Regions from separate parts of the Homo sapiens genome. Here region 2 is linked to region 1. Evidence: fine-mapped expression QTL. A gene starts in region 1. The other region holds a variant in brackets. All regions are shown on one strand. Distances are from middle to middle. Region 1 holds the start of ZNF471 (zinc finger protein 471). Region 2 overlaps ZFP28 (ZFP28 zinc finger protein).

Evidence for each region. PIP is the estimated chance that this variant, and not a neighbour inherited with it, causes the effect. A credible set is the group of variants that fine-mapping cannot tell apart.
Region 2: its variant is the best candidate, but not a certain one, in a credible set for the expression of ZNF471 in whole blood (TOPMed, PIP 0.84).

Annotation. Positions count from the first base shown.
Region 1 is chr19:56,505,376-56,510,752 of GRCh38, reverse strand. ZNF471 (zinc finger protein 471) reads right to left here and starts at 2,898. Exons shown (of 5, transcript NM_020813.4): 1 at 2,833-2,898.
Region 2 is chr19:56,546,244-56,551,620 of GRCh38, reverse strand. It overlaps ZFP28 (ZFP28 zinc finger protein), which reads right to left. Exons shown (of 8, transcript NM_020828.2): 3 at 3,987-4,113; 4 at 3,719-3,814; 5 at 2,500-2,663; 6 at 1,440-1,554; 7 at 1,016-1,111. It overlaps ZNF470-DT (ZNF470 divergent transcript), which reads left to right. Exons shown (of 2, transcript XM_047439806.1): 2 at 4,350-5,377. Among named protein-coding and RNA genes, the nearest start is that of ZFP28, 10 kb to the right of the region's middle. RefSeq lists an enhancer at 3,138-4,337. The variant G/A (reference allele first, on the strand shown) is at 2,673.

The sequences.
Region 1 (5,377 bases):
CACTCATAAAGAATCCAATCCTATCAATCTTCCAAGTAGTCTCTCCATACACAGCAGTCATACAGGGCCACAATTATGGGTATACAGGGTGACATACAAACACTAACACAGGTTTCATGGTCACACGGAGGACACAATCACAAGCACCCCAAAACAAGCACATATACACAGTCACATTTCCATTGCCTGAGGACATGAATATAAGCACACGTGGTGATTCACCAACACCTTCACACATACCCCCAATCTTACTTCTCTCACACACACAGCTCACTGTCCCTTATCTCTGTCTCACTCACACATGCATGCTTCACAACCTCACAGAGGTTATATTTGTAAAGCCTTTTGGATAACACACCATGGTTCACATAGTTTCTTTCTCACCCATTTTGGTCTCTCACACAACCACATCACTAGTCTTTCTCTCCCTCTTTCACACATATAAACATGATGGTCTCTCATACATACACATTCAATGGTATCTTTCAAAGAGGCCTCAGTTACTCAAATGCTCCAGTGTCTCACACAGATACACAAACACACTCTGATCTCTCATATTCCAACTGCTTTATCTCATGCACACAAAATACATACTGGTCACTCTCACTCCAATCTTTTTCATACTGTGATACACCCTCTCACAACCTACCAGTCCAGACAGAGACATACTCTAGTCTCTCACATACCCATTGGTCTCTCACACACTCACACCAACATACCCCAGTCTCTCCCAATCACTGAACTCTCAGTCTAGTCTCTTGCTTTTACTCAGACACACACATGATCTTTCTCAGACTCCAGGGAGCCTCATACTTGTTCATCTTTCACACAGGCACATCTATTTCTCTCACACATTGATATACCCTGGTCTCACACTCTGGATTCTCACAATCCAGTCCCTGATAACACACTCAGGTGACAAAGAGGAAAAACAAACTGTTTCTCCTACTCCACTCACACAACACAAAACAGTTCTAAGACCAGATGTGTGGGGATCTACACACACACACACACACACACACACACACACACACACACCAGGCAAGCAATAAGTTCTTCAGTGAATACCAGGTGGGTGACCTCTAGGGCAACCCAGTGAATACCAGGTGGGTGACCTCTAGGGCAACCCAATTCTGACACTATCTACCTGGAGACAGCATAAGATCCCACAGGTTGAGGGCTCAGCCCTACAAAATTGCTCCCCACTTCCAATGCCAGTTGCAAACCCCAGGTTGTTTTACTTGTGCTTCTGACTAGCTATAAATCGGGGTTCCTATGACCCCCTCCTTGCGTTCAATTAATTTGCTAGGGCAGCTCACAGAACTTAGGGAAACACGTTTGTAGTAATAAAGGATATTACAAAGGATGCAGGTGAAGAAATGCATAGGACAAGGTTATATAGGAAGGGGCTCATCCTACAGGAACCTCCAGTGTTCAGCTATCTGGAAGTTTGATGAACCCAGTCCTTTTGGGTTTTTATGGAAGCTTCATAATGTAGGCATGACTGGTTAAATCACTGACCACTGATGATCAGTTTAACCTGTGGCTCCCTTTCCTTTCCCTGGAGATTGAGGGATGGGGCAGGTAATCCCAACCCTCTAATCCTGCCTAGATTGTTCTTGTGACCATCCCTTACCGTGATCAACCTACAGGCTGCCAGCCCACCAATCATTAGCATGCAAAAAGACACTTAATACTTTGGAGATTCCAAGGATCTTAGAAGTCGTAAGCCAGGAAACATAACTTTGTCCTATACTTTGATCGCCTCCCTCTCTCTCACAAACTCATAACAACATAACCTAGTCTCACTCTTTGGACTCTCACAGTTTAGTCTCTTTCTCTCTCTCATACACACACACCAGCCTCTCAAGGAGCCTCACATAATGACTGGTCTTTCACACACAGCCACGTGCTCATCTCTCTCACACTCACTGGTCTCACGCTATGTTGTCTCTCACACACGAACACACCCTGGTCTCACACTCTGGTCTCTCTCAGTCTGTCAGACACACATAACACGGCCTCACACACTGACGGGTCTTTCACCCAAAACACCCATTTCTCACACTCACTGGTCTCCCTTTCACACATTAACATACCACAGTCTCACACTCTGTTCTTGCACAGTCTAGTCTCGCATACATGGTGATTCTTCTCTCTCTCGAACACACACCGGCCTCTCATTGAGCCTCACCCACCGACCGACCGGCCTTTCACACACAGGCACACGCCCATCTCTCACACTCACTGGTCTCTCACACTCCATCCAGCCCGTCTCACTCTCTCACACGAATACATCCTGGTCTCACGCTCTGGACACCTGGTCTGTTACACACTTACACACCCACACACCTCGCAACCTCTCACTGAGCTTCACACGCTCTCTTTCAAATGCAGGCACATCCCTATCTCTCTCACACTCACTGGTCTCTCACACTGGCCCGTCTCGCTCTGTCACACACGAACATACCCTGGTCTCACACTGGACTCTCGGTCTGTCACACACACACACACACACACACAGAAACCACACCCTCTCACGGAGCCTCACACTCTGACAGATCTTTTACACACAGGCACACCCCCATCTCTCCCACAGCTCACTCCAGTGGTCCCGCCGCCCCAAGCCGCCCCGAACGCCCAGCAGCCCCGAGCCGCGGCCTCCGCCCCGCAGACTCGAGTACGCGCGCCCCGCTGGCCTCTGGGAAATGTAGTCGTCCTGGGGACAGAGGACGCGGCTGGGCCTTCGCGACCCGCGTCGGAGCCGCCCGCCTCGCCTGCCCTTCCTGGCCCAGCCCTCGAGCTCGGACTCCCAAACCACCCAAAACAAACCCCCGGCCTCGTCTGGCACCCAGACGCTCTCATCCGAAGGACTCCGTGAGTCGACGCTGGAACCCCCCATCGCGCAGGCGCCAGCCTCTCTCCAGGGGTCGGACGAGAGGGGCGGAGACAAGGCGTGGCCTAGTGTTGAGGGGATTGTCCTCGGGCTGCTGAAGGAGTGAGAGGGACCTTAGAGCAGAGCGGGCGGTGCCTGCGCAGTGCGTGATTACGCGAGCCGGGCGTGGCCCAGGGTTCCGGCGGGTAAGAGCAGGAGTGTGCGCAGGCGCAAAGATTGCGCTCTCCCCCTCTCCTCGCCTAGAGACCAGAAGCGTCCCTAGTTACTAGTTCCTGGGGCCTGGGAGGGAAACGCGCGACGGCTGAGCCTTCGGTGTGAGTACGCGTGGGGCTTTGTGACGCTGTCTGTGCCTCTGTGATCGCGATGTCATTCGGAGCGCGGCCTTCTGTGCCAGTCCGTGGGAGTGTCATTATCTTTCTGTGTTAAGCTTATTTTGGAATAAGACAGCGACGAGGAACCCCGACCGTGTTGTGACTCTGGCGAATTAATACCTCTTTCAGCTGCAAATGGGAATGTCACTGATCAGAGGCAGTGAATAACACGACGTTTTTGGAACCAATCTGCTAGGCTTGAACCGCGTTCAGCCCCTTAACAAAATGGAAATGGTCCCCGTTTTAGGGGACTAGCCCTGACTAGGAGAACTGTAGAATTAGTATTGGAAGGTGAGACAAATAAGGAAAAGCAATTCAGGGGGATACAGCAGAGAAAAAAAAATCCCTGTCCTCTTATTATGTAATTTACTTTGAAGCGGAGAGAGACAAGCCACAAATTCATGAGTTAGATAAACAGTCTGATGAACAGTAAAAAGGGCTATGGAGAAATATAACTCAGAGAAGGTTGTATCGTATACATTTTTTCTATTGTCTCTTATAATGTCTTAACATGTCAAAAAAACCTGTCTGCAGCAGACACCAGCCAGGTGACCGCTACTCCAATTCAATTCTGACGCTACCTGGAAAACATCAGATCCTACAGGTTAGACAGCTCAGTCCCAAAAGACTGTCCCCCACTTCCCATGCCAATTCCAAACTCCAGATTGTTGTACCTGTGTTTCAGAGAGATGTGCTATAAATTGGGGCTCCCACAGCCGGCTCCTTGGGTTCCATTAGTTTGCTAGAGCAGCTCACAGAACTCAAGGAAACACTTATGTTTACTGGTTTATTATAAAAGATATTTTAAAGGATACAAATAGCCAGATGAAGAGACATGTAGGGCAAGGTCCGAGAGAATCCCTAGTGCAGGAACTTCTGTGCCCGTGGAGTTGGGGTGCACCACCCTCCCAGCACGAGGATGTGTTTTTGTCTACCTTCTTGGAAGCCGCTTGAACTCAGGCCTTTTCGGTTTTCAAGGTTTCATTATGTAGATGTGATTGATTAAATCATTGGCCACTGGCGATCAACTTAATTTTCAGGCTCTCTCTTTTCCCAGAAGTAGAGGGTGGAGCTGTGAGTTCCAGTCCTCTGAGCACATGGCTGGTTCCTCTGGCAACTAGCCACCACTCCCCCCAAATATTGGGATTATCTTGAGAGTTTCCAAAAATCACCTCATTAACATAAACTCATGTGTGGTTGAAATACTGTCTTTCACCTTTATGGCTCTGGAGCTGTTCTGGAGCTTTTTCAGGAACCAGGAACAAAAGGCCAGATATTTTAACAAAAGATACTTTATTGCTGCAGTCATTTAGGAAATTAAAAGAGCTGTAGGAACTGAGAGCCATGAACTGTACCTTTCTTTCTAACTCCACATTCAGTGATGTCATATTGGTAGATTGAAATCCACCACAAGGGGACTATTTACAGTATGGAAATACAGTCTACATCGCTAAAGGATGGAGATACATTCTGAGAAATGGGTTCTTAGGCAATTTCCTAAGAACCTTGTTGTGCAAACATCATAGAGTGTACTTACACAAACCTAGATTGTGTAGCCTACTACACACCCACACTCACTCAGACTGGGACAACTTAGACATACCAGTTAACTTACTGTGCACATCTTTGGGATGTGGGAGGAATCTGGAGTACCCAGAGAAAACCCATGGAGACATGGTGAGACTAGTCAGATTGCATTAGGACCCACCCTAACGACCTCATTTCAACTTAATTAACTCTGTAAAAATCCTATATCCAAATACAGTCACATTCTGAGGTACTGGGAGTTAGGACTTCAACATGCAAAATTTGGGGCAGACAAAATTCAACCAATAACAAGAGATTATTTTGATTCTTCTGTCCTCATTCATCCCACCAAGGAAGTAAGGGGTATTTCCATTATCATACTATATATTAAATTATCATTACATTACATATATAATGTTTTCTTTATCTAATTTTTACTTTATATATACCACATTTTTGTTCATGGGCCATCAAAGGTATTATCTCACATAATTCTTGTAAAAATAAAATTGAATAACTAACTTTACAGTTGAAGATTTAAACAATAAGGGACTTTTTCCAAAGCCACACATCTAATAAGTTT
Region 2 (5,377 bases), 41 kb before region 1:
AAACAAAAAAACTTTCAGAGCCTAGCAGGTGCTCATATCCAGGAATACAGCAATCCCCAAAATGTGTAGTTTTCACTTAACTTGAAAAAAATCTATTATAATTGTATCTTTAATACTAAGAAATGTAAAGCAACCTAAGTGAGCAATGGTATATACAACGTGGAATCCACATGAAAAACGTGTATGCGTAACTGAATATACACTGTAATTTCTACTATGTGAAAAAATGTGTGTTTATCCTGACTTAAATGGATCTAAGGTGTATGTTGTGATAACGTCACGGTTTTATATTCTTTTGCCAAACAGTAAACAATTACATTTTCTACAAACCATTATTTTCTATGGAAATTTCCTTTCTTTCCCTTGTGCATCAAGAGGAAAAGATCCTTTACTTCCACCTTCTTGCAATTCAACTTCTACCCACCTGTCCTACTAAAACATAGACACCACTGGGAACAACATCTCCTTTGTCTCTATAATGCCCTATTTGAAATTCTGCAAACTCTACTTCATGCAAGCTATCCATAAACATGTCTTATCCTTTCCATTAGAGTAATTCACTGATGGCTTACATTTATGTGTAATTCTCCCTTTTTCCAATCGCCTGCCAATACTCAGCAGAGTGGCTCAATCCCATAACTTTCAATTTGTGGTTCTCACAGGAATGGATGCATGATGAAAACAATAGGCCATTTAACCACAGAAGAGAAAACCTTTGGAAGTCAGCTCAAAAGTGCATCAGGGTCCAGAAAAGATCATTTAAGGAAGCAAGTGGATGATACACGTCCCAGTGGCCAAGAAAAGAAGGAACTTCAGGGAAATGGCAGTTACTGGAGAGAAGGGGGCAAAGGAGGAGGAAAGAATTATTTGGAACTCCCAGAGTTCAATTTTCTTTCCAGACCCAGAGACCCTGGGTAAAGTTTCCTACTGTATATTAGTGAGGATGCAGCCTTTTTGGTAAAAGCTCCGCTCTCTCTTGCAGTAGATTTTCCACACCAGGCTCTCCTGCACTCACCTGAGAACAGGCTTCCTGTCAGCTCTCGCTTCACCATCCAGGGCTCCTTCTCTTGCTCTAGTAAAGAGACTAAATCTGGCTTAGCCACACAATGTCCTGAAAAAGTGAAAAGAGATGAGGTTTGGCCAATAGTCTTGGCATCCTAAAATTGAGAACCACTTCCTTGTTGATAGAAAAGTGTTACTGCTGAAAGAAACAGAAAAACAGGTGAGTAGGATCTGAAAGACACAAGAAGATAACGCTTCAAGCCTAACAAAGACACCAACTTTCACCTCTACAAATGCCAAATTCTTATCTTAGGAATCCACAAAATTCAGGCCAGCATGTCAGAAGACACCCCCTCCCTCCTCCATAATTCAAAACTGAAGTTTGGAAATGGAGGTACCCGACGATAGATTCAAATATGGGAGAGGGACATCCTTACCTGCTGATCCCAGGTCACTGTTGTTCTCCCATATCCCATTCTTACAGAAATTCTTCTGAGCTGGGTGTAGCTGCTGGCGGAAGTCAACAGCCAGGTTTTTGATAGTCACCAAGCCCTGCAATGGTAAAAGCACGTTTTTTAAATCAAACCATGTTCGTGAACTCACCTGGTCTCAGTGGGATGGACTGTGTCCACACTGCAAAAAAGGCACTCCATACCAAGAACTGCAACTTAAGTTCTGGTACACCAGGTCAAATAATGACAGGGCTTAGTTATAGCATACATGTTTGGGGAAAAACACAGAAAAATAGGAGAAACTTTCTGCTATGGAGAGTTTGTCATACTTACACACAGTATGAACTTACACACAGTATGAACCTTTTAACAGACGGAAGGCTTTCCCATATTCATACAAATTATTCAACAAGTCCACAGAGTTTTTCTCTTGTATGAAATCTTTGATGAAAAGGAGGGGTTGATATTCTGCTCAAAGCTTTTTTTTTTTGAGACGGAGTCTTGCTCTGTCACCCAGGCTGGAGTGCAGTGGCGCGATCTCGGCTCACTGCAAGCTCCGCCTCCCGGGTTCATGCCATTCTCCTGCCTCAGCCTCCTGAGTAGCTGGGACTACAGGCGCCCGCCAGCACGCCCGGCTAATTTTTTGTATTTTTAGTAGAGACAGGGTTTCACAATGTTAGCTAGGATGGTCTCGATCTCCTGACCTTGTGATCCACCCGCCTCGGCCTCCCAAAGTGCTGGGATTACAGGCGTGAGCCACCGCGCCTGGCCTCTGCTCAAAGCTTTCTTACATTCATCACAAGTCAAACATTTCTGACCTTGACAGATTTGTTTGTAATTCATTACAACTCAATTTCCCCCTCCACTGTTCTTATGTGTATGGAGATTAGGCACTCTCTGTTCTGAGGGGATAATCTGTCTATAAGAAGCATTGTATTCAAATGAAAACTTCTCTTATAGTTGTTGTAGTCATGGTCTCTTCCCTCAAGAAGAGTTTCCTCATGAAGGATCCTTCCTCTTGCCTGAAATTTGTCTTGTGACTTACCGGCTGTGTCTCAAACAGAGCATCATAATCCCAGTGTTCCCCTAACAGAGAGTACTCCAGATTATAGCTTGTGAGTCTCTCTGTTATCACTGCCTGGGATAGCTTTCCTTCGCAGAAGTCCTTCTTGAGAGGTAACTCCTTGATCTTCCACACAGCCTTCAAGTCTGAAAGAC[G/A]TAAAGAAGGTAAATTTATCTTTTATCATGTGTTAGTATGAAGAAAAATTCCAAAATGCAACCGTTAAATTAAAAGCCACAAAAAAGCATATAGTCATTTATTTTTATGGAAGAAAATGAAAAGCATATCATTTTGAAAGCTTTCTTATATTACTAGCAATATTCAACCAACCCTACATTCCTAAATTTGTGTAGCCATAGTCCTAAAGGCCACAATAAGACCTTTCCCACCTAAAAGTTGAATAAGAGTTCACATTATGTTTTTAGCAGAAGACTGGAAAAAGCAATTAAAAATCAAGAGATAAGGGAGCTCACAAAGACTTAAATGTAAAATAAAATGTCTAATATAAAGAGAAAGTGGAGGCTATAGAAGAAAACTGCCATATGATCCTTATTTCAGCTTTAAGTCAACTCTTTTTCACTCCTTGTCCATTTCATCTAGAAAAAATTTCATCTCTATCTCTACATACCTCCTTTTTTTTTATTACGATGCTAACTAATAAAAGTCCAGATCCTGGCCTTAAAAATGTAAGTCTTCACAATTAACTAGTCTCAAGAAGAGATGAATGATCTGCAGGAAGAAAAAACAGTTCTATCTCATTAAACTAGCTCAAAGTATGTGATTTCATATGATGTTAAATTGGAAACTTTCACACATTCTTGTTCTCTTATGCTATATGATGACCCATGTGAGTCACTTTAATTTATAACTGTCAGTAACTTGTCCTGTTGTCAATGCAAGCGTTTCCTTTGAAGTGTGAATTGAACAAAGAAACCTTGTAAGATTCCCAATGCTTTAGAAACTGTAACCATTTCCTGTTAGGATAAAACCTCTGAAAGAAATCTATAATTCTAATTCCTTGTCTTAATAATTTGCTGTTCTGGAAATAATACTGTAGTTGAAATTTCTGTATTCCCAAATAGTAAAAATAACAGATATTCCTAAGCAAGAGGCTTAGGAAGAGTCTGCTGAAGATGTTGCGTGTCTGAGTCAGCTGAACTATGACCAGCAGTGGCCTCACCCTACCTGGTTCTCCCACACTCACCTGGGCACCAGGCTCTTGTCATCTTTCGCTTCACTGTCCAAGGCTCTTTTCCTTGTTCCAACGAGGAGATCACATCGGGCTTAGAAACACAAAGTCCTAGACACATAAAAAACAACCTGGTCATACTGTGTGGCTGTCCAGACTGAGATGCAGTCCCCTTGGCTTGACGCAAGAGGGCAGTGCAGGTCTGGGTGATAAAGGCATGAAAGGCTTCTTAGTCCAGGACGTGGGTAGGGTGAGGGGTGGGAAAAGGGGTGGGAGCCCTTACCCAGCGATGCCAGGTTCCTGTAGTTCTCCAACATCACCTTCCTGTACAAGTTCCTCTGAATGGGGTTCAGCCACTCCCACTCCTCTTGGGAGAAATCTACAGCCACATCCCCAAATGTCACCAAGCCCTGAAATGATATAACCATGTTCTTGCTCAACCAGTGCTCATGCCCCCACATGACTGGGGGTTTGTTATAGAAAGAAATGTGTCCCCTGACAAAACTCCTACATTAAACTCCTAATCCCCAGTACTTTTGAATGTGACTGTATTTAGAGACAGGGCCTACAAAGAGGTAATTAGGGTTAAATGAGGTCATATGGGTGGGGCCCTAACCCAATCTGTCTGGTGTCCTTATTAAAACAGGAAGAGATACCACGGTGTGCAGGCACAGGGAAAAGACCACGTGAGGACACAGAGAGAAGACGGCCGTCTGCAAGCCAAGGAGAGAGGCCTCAGGTGAAACCAAACCTGCAGGCACCTTGATCTTGGACTTCCAGCCTCCAGAAGCTTGAGAAAAGAAATTTCTGTTGTTTAAGACACCCATTCTGTGGTATTTGTTCTGGCAGCCCTAACAAACTAATATAGGGATCTAAAGATTCCTTGTCTTCATTTTGAGTAAGAGACTATAAACTCAGAACTGTGGAGATCTAGTTAGGTATTGTACAGCTAGCCTCATTCTGTCTTAAACTCCAGGTAAAAGAGAAAAATATGGAGACAGCCCCTGACTTTGGAGAACTTGCAGTTTTGTGGAGGTGAAAGGAGGCAGCCACAAGAAAAACCCCTGACATCAATTCAAAACTATAAATAACAAAGACTAACTTGTTCTATGCACAACAGGTACTACAGCACTGTCCAACATGGGGACATGTGAGTGGCCTGAAGCAGCACAAGAACTGGGCAATAAACTTGAGATGAACCTCAAAGCATCAATATTATTCATGACTAAACTGGGTTCTAAGAATTTCTATTTTTACTCTCAGTGTTCAGTAGAGGTCATTAAAAAAAAATCTAGCAATTTTTTTTTCTAAAATGAATATGTAATAAGAATGAAAAACAAAAAGCACTATAATGTTTTTAATTAATGAAATGCCTTTACGAACCAAGGTGCCATCTTGGAGAAGCTAGGCATTATGAGGAGCTATCAGGAGCACATTTGCTAACAGCTTGGCATGAGCAGGATTTTCTTGACCAACTGGCAAGATGGGGCTGCTCAGCTCCTGCTGGCAGATTTTTATGGAGCATAGTTTTACAAATTCAGCCTACAACTCTGATACGTTCCAATGTATTTTAAACATCTATTCAGTTGCAACTCTAATCCCAGGAACCTGTGGCTAACAGAAGGCAGATTTAACTGACTAGCAGCTGTGGGATTTTCAAAGTCTAAACTGAAA